3 separate regions of the Homo sapiens genome follow, and all the other regions are linked to region 3. Evidence: fine-mapped expression QTL. A gene starts in region 3. Each other region holds a variant in brackets. All regions are shown on one strand. Distances are from middle to middle. Region 1 has its middle 19 kb from the start of CRIP3. Region 2 overlaps UBR2 (ubiquitin protein ligase E3 component n-recognin 2). Region 3 holds the start of PRPH2 (peripherin 2).

Region 1 (5,345 bases), 610 kb before region 3:
CTGCTTGAAACTGGGAGGCAGAGGTTGCAGTGAGCCAAGACCATGCCACTGCACTCTAGCCTGGGCAACAGAGCAAGACTCCGTCTTGAAAAAAATAAAATAAAATCCAAGTAAGGGCTGGGCATGGTAGCTCACACCTATAATCCCAGCACTTTGAGAGGCCGAGGTCAGCAGATCAGTTGAGCCCAGGAGTTCAAGACCAGCCAGGCAACATAGTGAGACCCTGTCTCTACAAAAAATAAATTAGTCCGGCATGGTGGTCCATGCCTGTAGTCCCAGCTACTCGGGAGGCTGAGGTGGGAGGATCGCTTTGAACCCTGGAGGTTGAAACTGCACTGAACTCTGATTGCACTATTGCACTCCAGCCTGAGCAACAGAACAAGACCCTGTCTCAAAAATAAATTTAAAAAAAACTAAAAATGGGCCAGGCGCGGTGGCTCATGCCTGTAATCCCAGCACTTTGGGAGGCTAAGGTGGGTGGATCACCTGAGGTCAGGAGTTCGAGACCAGCCTGGCCAACATGGTGAAACCCTGTCTCTACTAAAAATACAAAAATTAGCTGGGCATGGTGGCATATGCCTGTAATCCCAGCTACTTGGGAGGCTGAGGCAGGTGAATTGCTTGAACCCGGGAGGCAGAGGTTGCAGTGAGCCTTGATTGGGCTACTGCGCCTCAGCCTGGAGGACAGAGACACCAACTCAAAAAAAAAAAAAGGGCTGGGTGTGGTGGCTCATGCCTGTAATCTCAGTACTTTGCGGGGCCAAGGCTGGCAGATCACTTGAGGTCAGGAGTTCGAGACCAGCCTGGCCAACATGGTGAAACCCCATCTCTACTAAAAATACAAAAAATTAGCCAGGGGTGTTGGCAGTCATCTATAATCCCAGCTACTTGGGAGGCTGGGAGGCTGAGGCAGGAGAATCGCTTGAACCTGGGAGGCAGAGGTCACAGTGAGCCAAGATTGCGCCATTCCACTCCAGCCTGGGTGACAAGAGCGAAACTCTGTCTCAAAAAAAAAAAAAAAAGAAAGAAAGAAAAAGAAAAAAGGAAAAAATGCTAGTGGGTACCTTTTTTTTTGGAGGGGGGACAGAGTCTTACTCTTTCGGCCAGGCTGGAGTGGAATGGCGCGATCTCAGCTCACTATAACCTCCACCTTCCGGGTACAAACAATTCTCGTGCCTCAGCCTCCCGAGTAGCTGGAATTACAGGCGTGTGCCACCATGCCTGGCTAATTTTTTTATTTTTAGTAGAGATGGGGTTTCACCATGTTAGCCAGGCTGGTCTCAAACTCCTGACTTCAAGTGATCCACCCGCCTTAGCCTCACTAGGTGCTGAGGTTACAGGCGTGAGCCACTGCGCCTGGCCAAAAAATGCTAATAGGTACTTTTATTCCTCTTTGTACTTTGGGGCTATGGGCTCAGAAACACAGTGGGAATGAGAACCAGAACCTAGTAAAATTTAGCTGACCTTTAAATCCTGTAAACTCTGAGATTTATTTAAATCTAAGCTGTGTCAATTCCAGATTTATCCTGAAAACTATTAGGCTGGTTTTGTTTTTTTGTTTTGTTTTGCTTTTGGGTTTTTTTTTGAGACAGAGTTTCACTCTGTTGCCCAGGCTGGAGTGCAGTGGCGCGATCTCAGCTCACTGCAACCTCTGCCTCCTGGGTTCAAACGATTCTCCTGCCTCAGCCTCCCAAGTAGCTGGGATTACAGGCGTGTGCCACCATGCCTGGCTAATTTTTGTATTTTTAGTAGAGACAGGGTTTCACCACGCTGGCCAAGCTGGTCATGAACTCCTGACCTCAAGCGATCCGCCCCCCTCGGCCTCCCAAAGTGCTTGGATTACAGGCGTGAGCACCACGCCAGGCTGGTTTTGTTTTTGATTTGTAAGTCCAGGCATTTTTAGAGTCCTGGAGGTCTAGTTTACTGCCCAAATACATCTATGGTTTTAGTAACTTTCGGGAATATTCATGATATTAAGCAAAGCCATCAGTGGAATAAGAAGTCAATCAAGGGCAAAAAGTACCTCAGGGCCTCATGCTGCTGATATATTAGTTAAGGATTACTTATTCCTGAGGCATGACCTGGTGGATGAAGCAATGGAAAGCAACCTGGTGCCAGGGCTGCCAACA[C/T]GTTGGTCACCACCACTTTCTCTCCTTTGTTCCAGCCCAAGATCTGTTTCTTATCAACTGTCACATTCCTCTGTTCAGGGACAGTCAAAGATGTTGGTCACAAGCTTTCATACAAACTATGACTCACAGCCCTACCTCCATCACCTGCTTTGCTGCTTAGACCTCAGTTCTCCAATGGTGTCTGAGCTGTACTGATCTGGGGGATAGGTGAGGGAAAGGGAACATTTTTTAGAATACTGTTTTTCCTTTCGGACTTCTTTTTTCTGTTATTATTATTCAAAAAGCTTCATTTTTATTTAGCTTTCTGACTCTTCAATACTTTTACAACAATTTTCTGCTCTTCAATAAGGAAAGCACGCTTGATCTTGTCATGAACACATTTAACACACATGGAACCACCATAGGCCCTGCTGACATGTTTTTTTTGTTTTCCACAATCTCATAAGAACTTTAGGTCTCACAGTACAAACCCCTTGAAGTCTGCCTGGGCACACACCACATGCAGAATTTGGTGCTTTCCCAACCTTCTTGGTATAAAGGTAAACAATTATATTACCAGGGGTTTGGGACAGCCTGGTTTTGTTAGAGGCTATATTGTAGGAAAGCCTATGATGGTATGTCAAATGCTGGACCATTCTGAGTGCCCCTACACAAGCTCAAAGGACTGCTCCTGAGAGCTCTAGGCTTCCTCAACTTTTCGATGGTGGCCGATTGTAAAGGAAATATAGACAGGGGAAAGAGAACGTCTGCCATACCTCTAGACCCCTTTGGACTTCTTTTATTTTATATGAATTCACATGTATTATGAATGATGAAATATGTAAGATCTTTTTTATTGAATTACAGTTAATATGTTGAATTTCACAAAACATAAAATTCACCTTTATTTTTTTGAGACAGGGTTTCACTCTGTCGTCCAGGCTGGAGTAGTACAGTCCTGCAATCATGGCACACAGCAACCTCCACTTCCTGGGCTCAAGTGATCCTTCCACCTTAGCCTCCCAAAGTGATATGATTAGAGGCGTGAGCCACTGTGCCTGGCCAAATTCACCATTTTTAAGTGTATAGTCCTGTGATTTTTCGTATCTTCAGTGTTGTACAACTATCACCACTATCTAATTCCAGAACATTTCCATCATCCTCTAAAAAAAAACATATACCCATTAGCAGATACTCCCAGTCACCCCTACTCCCAAGCCACTGGCAATCACCAGTCTCCTTTCTGTCTCTATGGATTTGCCTATTTTGAGCATTTAATATAAATGGAATCATACAATAAATTTCTTTTGTGTCTGGCTTCTTTCACTTAGCATAATGTTGTCAAAGTTCATCCATGTTATACCATGTATCATTGTATTTTATGGCTAGTTATTCCACTGTATGGATATACCATGTTTTGTCTACTAATTGTTGGACATTTGGGCTATTTTCATATTTTGCCTATTATGAATAATCTGTGAACATTCATGTACAAGTTTTTGTGTAAATATACGTTTTTAGTTCCCTAGGGTGCACAACTAGGAATATATAGTCATATGGTAACCGTTTAACTTTTTTCTTTTTTTTTTTTTTTTGAGATGGAGTCTAGCTGTTGTTGCCCAGGCTGGAGTGCAATGGCACGATCTCAGCTCACTGCAACTTCTGCTTCCTGGGTTCCAGCAATTCTCCTGCCTCAGCCTCCCGAGTAGCTGAGATTTCAGGCGCCCGCCACCATGCCCAGCTAATTTTCGTATTTTTAGTAGTGATGGGGTTTCACCATGTTGGCCAGGCTGGTGTCGAACTCCTGACATCAGGTGATCCATGCGCCTCGGCCTCCCAAAGTGCTGGGATTACAGGGTGAGCTACCATGCCCGGCCCCATTTAACTTTTTTCTTTTTTTTTTCTTTGAGACGGAGTCTCGCTCTGTCCCTCTGTTGCCCAGGCTGGAGTGCAGTGGCGCAATCTCGGCTCACTGCAAGCTCCACCTCCCAGGTTCAGGCCATTCTCCTGCCTCAGCCTCCTGAGTAGCTGGGACCACAGGCGCCCGCCAGCACTCATGGCTAATTTTTTGTATTTTTAGTAGAGATGGGGTTTCACCGTGTTAGCCAGGATGGTCTTGATTTCCTGACCTTGTGATCTGCCCACCTCAGCCTCCCAAAGTGCTGGGATTACAGGCGTGAGCCACCGCACCCGGCCTTAACTTTTTTCTAAGTAAACTTTTATATTAAAGTACAATGTTCATATTTTAAAAACAGGCTGGGCACAGTGGCTCATGCCTGTAATCCTAGCACTTTAGGAGGCCAACATGGATGAATCTCCTATCCATGTTGGATAGGATCAACATGCGGGAGGATCACTTGTGTCCAGGAGTTCAAGACCAGCCTGGGTGAAATAACAAGACCCTGTCTCTACAAAAAATAGAAAAATTAGCTGGGCATGGGAGCGGGTGCTTTTAGTCCCAGCTGCTCAGGAGGCTGAGGTGGGAGGATCGCTTGAGGCCACGAGGTAGAGGCTACAGTGAGCCATGATTGCACCACTGCACTCTGGCCTGGATGATAGTAAAACCCTATCTCAAAAACAAAAAACAAAACACATTACAAGTGTTAAGCTTAACAATTTCACAAAGTGAACAGACCTAGGTAACCAACACCCAAATCAAAAAATAAAATATGACCAACACCCTGGAAGCTCCTCTCATGTTATCTTCCAGTTACCACTTCCCCAAAATGTAACCAGTAATCTGACTGTTATAACAATCTCTGGTACTTTTTAAAAAAAAATCGAGGTGAAATTTACATTATAAAATATGTGAAATTTTCATCACCCAAAATAAAACACTATTTCCCTTAAGCAGTTAGTCCCCATTCCCACCTACCTGCAGCCCCTGGCAATCACCAATCTGTTTTCTTTCTATATTGATTTATCTATTCTGGACATTTCATATAAATAAAATCATACAATGTGTGACCTTTCATCTGTATTTTTGTGTTACTATTTTTTCACTTAGCATAATGTTTTTGAGATTCATCCATGTTGTAGTATGTATCAGTGTTTTATTCCTTTTCATAGCTGAATAATACTCCATTATATGTATATATCACAATCTGTTTATCCATTCATTTGCTGATGGACATTTGAGTTGTTTCCACCTTTGGCTATTTCGAATAATGCTGCTATGAACATTTCCTGCATAAGTATTTGAGTACCTGTTTTTTTATTCTTTCAGGTATTTACTAG
Region 2 (5,000 bases), 47 kb after region 3:
CTTAGATTGCTTTCAATTATTTGCTAATATAAATAATATCAGAGTGTACATCTTTTTCTTTTTGAGACAGGGTCTCACTCTTTTGTCCAGTCTGGAGTGCAGTGGTGTGATGGCTCACTGCAGCCTTCACCTGCCTGGGTGATCTGACTACCTCAACCTCCTGAGAAGATAGAACCACAGGCACATGCTACCATGCCTGGCTAATTTTTGTATTTTTTGGTAGAGACAGGGTTTCACCATGTTGGCCAGGCTGGTCTCAAATGCCTGGGCTCAAGCAATCTGCCAGCCTCATTCTCCCAAAGTGCTGGGATTATAGGGGTGAGACACCGTGCCTGGCTGGAGTGTCCATCTTTATATGCCTATATGTTTTTTTTCTATATGTTGAATTATTTTGTTAATGTAGGTTCTCAGAAATGGGATAGTCAAAAAACAGACATTTTTATAGGTTCCTGACTACAGATTCTTGACATATATACTGTTGAAAGCTAAGCAAACTACTGAATTGCTATTTGTAGCAAATCATGACTCTAACCATACATGGAATTCTAATAATTTCATTTTATTCCTGCTACTACTGAATATTACCTTAAAAATAAATTATGCCAATTTAACTTGCAGTTTTAAATTCCCATTCTGAATGAGACAACATAAGTTTTAGAGTATCAACTTTCCAAAGTACATTTGATCTATCCTCTAGTCTCTGCCAGATCCCTGAGCAAATGAAGGGTTCCACAGCCAAATAAATGTGGGAAGCTCTGCATATTATCACCTTTCTCCCAGATTTCCAATTATGTTAGTATATGAATAGTTCAGAAAGGCTCTGCAGATCACTCCACGTCTTATTTTAAAAACATGTCAACAGACAACAAATTCCCCTAATTAACAAACGAATTCCTTTCTCATGCTATCATCATCTAGCAATATTTAGGGAAATGCGTTATGTAAAGATAACTAACTCACCTTCCCGTATACTGGTGAAGTGTTTTATACAAAGCAAGAACTGCTGATTCTTCTTCACAAGGGGGATTTTCTTGATCCATGCCATTCTCTTCTGAAAGATAAGGAAATACTAGTACTCTGTATTTTCCAATTAAGTGTTATCAAAAGGACTGAAGACATTAAGCATGCAAATATATTCATAAACTCACATATAACATGAAGTATTCCTAGAAAACATGCAAAATTGTAATCCCTCAAGTGGGAGCACAGTATTGATCTCAATCAAACCAAACAGCCAGCTGGCATGTTTTAAGTAAAATCAAATAAATATAGTCTTAAAGTGTATGAAAAACAAGAATTTTGAATGCAAAACGTAATTTAATGATGAATTCATGTGGGCATTAACAAACATGTAAGTTAAAACAAAATTGGCATTCTAAAACATAAGATTCTAAAAGATTTAATTACTATTCTACACAAATATTACTGAATGTATGAAATTAAAACTAGAAACATTCACATTACTAGGAAATTTTAAGAGGAGAAAGAAATGTTTCAAAACTTTTCATATGAAGATACACAGAAAAAAACAGCCTTATTCATGTGTTATTCTCATCCAAATACCTTTTCCTCTAATACTTTTTTTAAAACTCAGAAAACTCAAGTATTTCCTTCAAGAAACTGACAAAAAGGCAAGAGTTACCTGTACATGAGGTAAGTAAGATCTGTATGATGTGTGCCATAGTAACCAGATGGAAAATGTGAAGGTCTCCAGTGCCAAGGCTGATCCCTGAAAAATCCTGACACTGCAACGCAGGAAATGCAAGCACCAAGCCCACCTAGGCACCAAACACAGGACATCAGACAGATCGCCTTTCCTTTCACAGCTAAGCAAATTTCCATCTTCTTACTTTTACTTTTATTTTGATTTTTTTTTTGAGACAGAGTCTTACTCTGTTGCCCAGGCTGGAGTGCAATGGCGCAACCTCGGTTCACTGCAACATCCACCTCCTGGGTTCAAGCGATTCTCCTGCCTCAGCCTCCTGAGTAGCTGGGATTACAGGCGTGCAACATCATGCCCGACTTTTTGTATTTTTAGTAGAGATGAGGTTTTGCCACGTTGGCCAGGCTGGTCTCGAACTCCTGACCTCAGGTAATCCGCCCACCTCGGCCTCCCAAAGTGCTGGGATTACAGGCGTGAGCCACCGCGCCTGGTCACATTTCCATTTTCTTACTGTGATCCCTCCTGAGTTCAGCTCCTCCCTTTAAGAAATCTTTGTTCTTAAAGAAAGGGCATCCATGTTGGAAAATCCAATAGGACTGGCTACATGAAATGACTTGAGTTACAGGACTCTTGATGGGCACTATGATTTCATTAATCCAGTGGGTCCTCTATACATAGCTTATTGTTAACAAAAACAGTATCTGAACTCTCTCCAGGACTGTAGGCAGTTGAAAAAACATGGGTTTTGGACCCATAAATATCTAGATATGAATCCTACCTCCTCCTCTTATGAGCTGTTTTACACAAATTAATATCTCTGATCAGGCCTCAGTTTCCCTATTGGTAAACTAAAGACAATATGTTACATGTAAATTGTAGAGATGTAAGTGTGAA[C/T]GTATGTAAAAGCTGGCAGGTACACAAATGCTAGCTCTGTTGGCCTCCTGCTGTCTGCATGGCAGTATAAGTGGTGGTGGTTTTAGTTGCAGCAATGAGAACAGTAATAGCCGCATTTATTAGGAATATATTGCTCTAAGTGTGTTACATGGATTAACTCACTGAGTTCTGACATAGTCATATAAAGTAGGTACTAACCAACTTAAAGGGGCAGAATCTGAGGTCCAGAGAATAAAGGCACAGCACTCGGGGCTGCTGGGTGTGGCAGTACACTCTGTACCCTGTGCAAGGGAACCCAGTTGAGGTAGGGCTGAAATTTGGCTACCCACTATTTGGACAGCTGTGTGTCTTAGCACTAGGATGTCCTGGCTCAGAGGACATACCTTTCCCTGAATTATAAGGGGCTCTCTGCTGCTAAGTAGTGTGACCACAGGGCTGTATCTGCCAGATTTTCGAAAATGTACAAAAGCACTGTATGGGCCAGCAGCAGTGCTTCTGTTGCTGTTTTTTTTTTTTTGGATGGGGTCTTGCTCTGTCATCCAGGCTGGAGTGCAGTCATGCAATCTTGGTCACTGCAACCTCCGCCTCCTGGGTTCAAGTGATTCTCCTGTCTCACTTTCCTGAGTAGCTGAGATTACAGGCATGTGCCACCACGCCCAGCTAATTTTTTGTATTTTTAGTAGAGATAGGGTTTCACCATGTTGGCAAGGCTGCTCTCAAACTCCTGACCTCAAGTGATCTGGGGTGAGCCTCGCAAAGTGCTGGGATTACAGGCATGAGTCACCACACCTGACCCGTTGCTGGTGTTTTTATCTCTTTACAGGTTAAAAGCACAGAGAGGTTAAAATACTAACCTCAGCCATAAAGCAAAATAAGAGTCAGAGGACGTCTCGATAACCAGGTCAAGTCTCTCAACTAGGTTCCTAAATATTTTCTTTTTGAGGTTTCTCATAAAAGAATTATACTCAGAAGGGGTAAGGAAATCACATAACTCCTTCCTGTCTGCCACTACACTGCTCACCAAACCTAAGGTAAAGTTACATAGTATGACGTAGAAGTCCAAACAAACTGCACAATACCCACCAATAAATGAAACATGTCAATATCTAATATGCATGGAAGTTCCTCATGGCTGTCATTAGGCACCAGTGCTACAGATTTAAAGAGAAATACATTAGCATATTTCATATGCCAACATGTTAAAATGCATATAATCTGCTTTAAATTTATCTTCTTGCAAGACACATGAGAATTTATAAGCTAGAGCTTATATATAAGAAAACCAGTACTACTAAATATTTAATTCATTACTGAGAGAAGCTGTACCATTAAAAACAAAATTTCAGAGGATGAAAAATTACAACATGTTATAAATGTATTAATACTCACATGCAAAAAGTTTACAAAAATGTCCTTGCACCACTGAAACTGATGCCACTGTCCAGTGTGCTGCGGCAAATCTCGTCAATGACCTAAGACAGTCATCCTAAAATAAACCAACGCAATTAACAAAAAACAAAAATGCAAAGCAGTTCTCTTTCAGGAATGCTAGTTCAGAGCACAGCTGGATGCACAATGAAACTGCTCTAGATGGTATGGAACTAGATCTATGACATCTCAATGACATGCCTCTAACACAGGATAAATGGAATGGGAAATGTCTAAGTGTGTGCTGAATAAATGAAATCTATCTCTTTGCCACCATGTTGCTGGTTTTCTCTGGAAAAGAAAAGAATATAGAATATACGCATCTGACAGAAAGCAAGGGACACTCCCAAGATGCCAGTGCAGGCCGGGTGTGGTGGCTCACACCTGTAATCCCAGCTACTCGAGAGGCTGAGGAAGGAGAATCACTTGAACCCTGGAGGCAGAGGTTGCAGTGAGCTGAGATCACACCACTGCACTCCAGCCTGGAAAACAGAGCGAGACTCTATCTCAAAAAACAAATAAACAAGCCAAGATGCGGATGCAGTATTTCTCTATGTTTATCCTAAACAGATACCCTAAAACACATATCTCTTATGTTTATCCTAAAGAGATCCTCTAAAATGTGGATACTCTTCCGTAAAATGTAGAGTATCCTAAAGAGATACTCCAAATATTGGGGAAACTGTCTAAGAAGATGGTGGTACAAATGAGGGTGCCTGCAGCTATTAAAAATTGTTATGAGGACTAAGTAGCAGTAATAAGAAAACTCTTGATTTAAAGAATACAGCAGAAACAAAGCTACATGTGAGTACCAATTGTAATCAAGCATAAATATGCTAATGGAAAAAGATGGGTATGTGATAAGTTGATGACTTTTTTCTTCCTGCTTGTTTTTTCATTTTCCAAATTTTCTGTAATGTTTGGTTCAATAAATATTGAGGTCCTACTATATACACTAGGTCTTGGTTCTGAAGATCTTCAAATAAAACCCATTCTCCCCCTCCTGCTCTCAAAG
Region 3 (5,345 bases):
CAGGCAAAAGTGCTGAACAGACACTTCACCAAAGAAGATATGCAGATGGCAAATAAGCACATGACACATGAAAAGATCAAATGTCATTAGGGCACTGCAAATTCAAACAAGATGCAGCTACACACCTATTACAGTGGTTAAAATCTGAAACACTGACAATATCAAATGTTGGCAAGGACATGAAGTAAAAATTGCTGGTAGGAATGCAAAATTGTACAGTCACTTTGCAAGACAGATTGGCAGTTTCTTACAAAGTTAAACATAGTCTTACTATGTAATCTAGCCATTGTGCTCCTAGATATTTACCCAGATGAATGGAAAATTTTTCAGCAAAAACCTGCACGTGGATGTTTATAGCAGTTTTATTCATAATTGTCAAAAACTGGAATCAACCAGGATATTCTCTGATAGGTGAAGGAATAAACCGTGGTACATCCATGTGATGAAACGTTATTCAGTGATAAGAAGAAATGAGCTATTAAGCCGTGAAAAGATACAGAGAATCATTAATCACATATATTGCTAAGGGAAAGAAGCCAGTCTGAAAAGGCTACATGTTGTATGATTCCAACTGTAAGATATTCTAGATAAGGCAAAACTATAGATCTAGACGGTGGTTGCCCAGGGCTGAGGAGTGAGGGAAGGAGGAATGAATAGGCAGAACATGGCAGGTTATTAGAGTAGTGGAAGTATTCTGTATGATACAATAATGATGAATACATGACATTATGCATTTGGCAAAAGTGACAGAATTATATGCACAAAGACTGAACCTTAATGTAAACTATAGACTTTAGTTAATAATAGTGCATCAATATTGGTTCATTAATTGTAACAAATGTACCACATTAATGCAAGATATTAATTAGAGGAGAAACTGGTTGGGGAGATGGAGAATAATGGGAACTCCCTGTATTTTCTGTTCAATTTTTTTGTAAACCTAAAACTACTGTAAGAAATAATCCATTAATTAATAATAATAATAAATGTACAGATTCACCAAGAGTGTACACTTCTACTTCCACTCTCTTTGTTGATGTATGGTGACAGAATTTTGACATACATTCAATTTGATGGATCGAGTTTGGTCTTTTTCTTTTTTTGAGACGTCATTTCACTCTTGTCACCCAGGCTGGAGTGCAATGGCGCAATCTTGGCTCACTGCAACCTCCACTTCCCGGGTTCAATTGATGCTCCTTCCTCAGCCTCACAAGTAACTGGGATTACAGGTGCCTGTCACCATACCCAGACAATTTTTGTATTTTTAGTAGAGACAGGGTTTCACCATGTTGGCCAGGCTGGTCTTGAATGCCTGACCTCAAGTGATCCACCCACCTTGGCCTTCCAAACTGCTGGGATTACAGGTGTGAACCACTGTGCCCGGCCAAGTTTGGTATTTTATTGTTGTTTGGATTTGCATTTTCCTGCTTATTACCCAAGTTGAGATCTTTTCCAGATTATTGGACTTTTCAAGTTTCCTAATTATGAATTGTCTGTTCCTGGTTTTTGCCTATTTTTCCAGTTGATTATTGGTCTTTTGATTGTGAATTTTTGTTTATTGTGAATTTGTGAGACTTAAAACATTTTTGCATATTAATTCTTTTTTTTTTTTTTCCAGACAGAGTCTCACTGTCACCCAGGCTGGAGTGCAATGTGGGGATCTCAGTTCAGTGCAACCTCCACCTCCTGGGCTCAAGCGATCCACCTGCCTTGGCCTCCCAAAGTACTGGGATTACAGGCATAAGCCACCATGCCTGGCCACTGTATATTACTTTTTAATTTTACAAGTTGCAAATGTTTTCTCACGATCTGTCACTTTCTTTCTTTCCTTCCTTCTTCTCTTCTTTTCTTTGTCTTTTTAAAATTTGAGACAGGGCCTCACTCTGTCACCCAGGCTGGAGTGCAGTGGCACGATCATGGCTCAGTGCAGCCTTGAACTCCCCAGGCTCAGGTGATCTTGCCACCTCAGCCTCCAGAGTAGCTGGGAGAACTACAGGTGCATGCCACCATACCCAGCTAATTTTTTTTTTTTTTTTTTTGTGTGTGTGTGTGTGTGTGTGGAGATGGGGTCTTCCTATGTAGCCCAGGCTGGTCTTGAACTCCTGGGCTCAAGTGATCCACCCAACTTGGTCTCCCAAAGTGCTGGGATTATAGGCGTGATCCACTGTGCCTGGCCCTGTCATTTCTTTTCTCAGAGAGGATAACAATTTATTTGTCCTACAGAAAGTTTTAAATGTTGAAGGAGATTGGCCTGGAAATATGCTTTTGGGGAGCAACACGGTCTGAGCCAGACATCCAGATACAGCCCATTCTTCTGGCCAGTCTTGCCCTTTGCTCCTGATTCTCCAAGCTGTACCCAGAGCTTTCTGGTTCAGCATGTACCTGGAGGCTGCTTTTGACCATGTTTTGAGAGTGGCATGGCTTTATCTAATGGGATGAACCTGGCTAAAGAGATTAGCAAAATGTCTTGTGGATCCCACTTTTAATCTGCAGCGTTCAGGCTGCCCCTTCTTGGCTGGGAAGGGCGCTGAAGAAACAACGCCCAGGACCAGGACTATCCCCTGCTCAAGCTGTGATTCCGAGACCCCTGCCACCACTACTGCATTCACGGGGATCCCAGGCTAGTGGGACTCGACATGGGTAGCCCCCAGGGCAGCTCCCTACAGCTTGGGCCATCTGCACTTTTCCCAAGGCCCTAAGTCTCCGCCTCTGGGCTCGTTAAGGTTTGGGGTGGGAGCTGTGCTGTGGGAAGCAACCCGGACTACACTTGGCAAGCATGGCGCTACTGAAAGTCAAGTTTGACCAGAAGAAGCGGGTCAAGTTGGCCCAAGGGCTCTGGCTCATGAACTGGTTCTCCGTGTTGGCTGGCATCATCATCTTCAGCCTAGGACTGTTCCTGAAGATTGAACTCCGAAAGAGGAGCGATGTGATGAATAATTCTGAGAGCCATTTTGTGCCCAACTCATTGATAGGGATGGGGGTGCTATCCTGTGTCTTCAACTCGCTGGCTGGGAAGATCTGCTACGACGCCCTGGACCCAGCCAAGTATGCCAGATGGAAGCCCTGGCTGAAGCCGTACCTGGCTATCTGTGTTCTCTTCAACATCATCCTCTTCCTTGTGGCTCTCTGCTGCTTTCTGCTTCGGGGCTCGCTGGAGAACACCCTGGGCCAAGGGCTCAAGAACGGCATGAAGTACTACCGGGACACAGACACCCCTGGCAGGTGTTTCATGAAGAAGACCATCGACATGCTGCAGATCGAGTTCAAATGCTGCGGCAACAACGGTTTTCGGGACTGGTTTGAGATTCAGTGGATCAGCAATCGCTACCTGGACTTTTCCTCCAAAGAAGTCAAAGAGTGAGTGGCTTCCAGTCCTGGGGTCAGAGCTATGAATATATTGGGGACACTGAGGCTCAGGCCTCTGACCAGCCCCTCTCCCCGCACCCAGTGCCTTTTCCTCTCCATCGGGTGCACAACTTATTGCTGCGTATGTGAGGGTGTATCAGGTGGAACCATATGAAATTGCTAATATTCTACCTCTTTGACCCATAAAAAATGACAACTTCATAGGGTTCAACCTAACATTGGCTAAGGTGGTAGGAAGGTATCAATTTATATAAGCTGTTTGGATAGGAGCCCCTTGGGATGAAGAGCCAGGCAGCAATGTGTGTCCACTTTATACAGAGGGATGGAAGTCATTCATAGATCACAAACACTGAGGTACTATTTGGCTATTTGTCCCATTCATTCAAAGTAGATGGATTCAGTCCCAGAAGTTTAAATTTCCTAGTTAGTTCCCTTGTTTTCCAACCTTTCAACCCTGAGCATCCATTCCCAAGATGTTTGTCTGGATATGTTGGAAAGAGCATAGGAAGGGGAAGTCATGAGATCTAGGGTGAAGTTTTGGTTCTGTTGTTCAAGGTCTTGTGACCTTGGGCAGGTCACTAGTCACTCTGCGCTTTGGCTTGCCCATCTTTTAAATGAGCACTGGAATAGAATAGGTAATTTTGGAAGTCACCTCCTAGCCCTGCCTGGTAGCTGGCATGCAGCAGGTACTCATTAAATGCTTGCTGGTGTTTACTTAGCGAGTCATGATAGTGCAATGTGATAAAGCATTTCTAAAGTATTCTTGGCATATGTAAAAGTAAAATGCTGCGATGGGCTGTGGGAGGTGCTGGTGAGAGAGAGACTCTCGACCACTGTGTCGGAGGGAACAGCCTGTGCACTGGCTCCAGCGGGCTGCTCTTCCCAACACACCCACCAACCTGGGGCTCGAGTGACTTTTCAGGGAAAGGGCAGCCTGCCTTGAGGCAGCCGCTTTCCCTCACCTCTTCTTTCTGTCTGACTCGACCCTACCTGGCTGAGGTTAGGGGTTCAGTTATTCCTAAGGGTGGTTTTTTTTTCTTCCCAGTGAGGCTGGCAAGTCCAAAGGGAACTTGAACTCAGGGCATTGGCACCAGCAGCAGGACATGTTTGAAGCCCAAAACAACATTAATGACGCCCAAATAGCTAGCTTATATCTGCCCTGCAGATGGAAGGGACGTCCAAGTGAAGGTCACTTCTTGGGATTTTATTTTCTTGTGGATGGAGATTACTGCTGCAAATCCCCAGTCAGGAGAGGATTGTAAAGGGCTGTGCCCTTCCCAGGTGACAGGTCTGCAGGGGCAGCACAAGATGCCACGATTTACATAAATCTCCCGAGGAGGGCATGAAGCCAGGGGGACAAGCAGAATTCTGGGGAGTGGGAGAGGCCGATGGTAGAACCAGCCTCTGTGAGCAGAGGCTCACAGAGAAGGGGCTTTTCATCTTTTCCTCTATCATTTCCCTTGATTGTCTCCTGCATAGAGTCAGTTCTTGGACAGATGTATTCAAATCTCTCGGTAACTCCAAATCCCCTTTTGTATCAGAGTGAAGGAATTATCTAGGTCACTCCACTCTCAATGGTCAATGGATCCAAAATTTCAGGCAAATATTTAGCTGAATCAAAACTCCTTCAATGTCCCATACCAACTTGTTGGTGGGAAATTTTCCTAACTCCACTGACTTGGAAAAATTCTTCTATTACACGCACAAAAAATACAGCAGTAATATTAAAAGAAGCCAAAATAGGAAAACAAATTCAAGCTAGCTTCTCACCCATAACTTGATTAATGCCTTTAGTTTTTCTACATTTCAGTTTCAGTCTAGTCTTGTTAACATTTACATAATCATACAGTGTAATGATAGTATAAAGACAATTTAGGGCCGGGTGCGGTAGCTCACACCTGTAATCCCAGCACTTTGGGAGGCCGAGGCGGGCGGATCACCTGAGTTCAGGAGTTCGAGACCAGCCTGACCAACACGGA

What was found. PIP is the estimated chance that this variant, and not a neighbour inherited with it, causes the effect.
Region 1: its variant is fine-mapped to the expression of PRPH2 in prostate (GTEx, PIP above 0.99).
Region 2: its variant is fine-mapped to the expression of PRPH2 in thyroid (GTEx, PIP above 0.99).

Annotation. Positions count from the first base shown.
Region 1 is chr6:43,325,553-43,330,897 of GRCh38, reverse strand. It overlaps the pseudogene RPL34P14. Among named protein-coding and RNA genes, the nearest start is that of CRIP3, 19 kb to the right of the region's middle. RefSeq lists a silencer at 2,093-2,387. The variant C/T (reference allele first, on the strand shown) is at 2,130.
Region 2 is chr6:42,672,834-42,677,833 of GRCh38, reverse strand. It overlaps UBR2 (ubiquitin protein ligase E3 component n-recognin 2), which reads right to left. Exons shown (of 47, transcript NM_001363705.2): 37 at 3,947-4,043; 38 at 3,641-3,708; 39 at 1,643-1,778; 40 at 961-1,051. Among named protein-coding and RNA genes, the nearest start is that of PRPH2, 47 kb to the left of the region's middle. The variant C/T (reference allele first, on the strand shown) is at 2,558.
Region 3 is chr6:42,719,766-42,725,110 of GRCh38, reverse strand. It overlaps PRPH2 (peripherin 2), which reads left to right and starts at 2,514. Exons shown (of 3, transcript NM_000322.5): 1 at 2,514-3,357. The coding sequence starts at 2,777.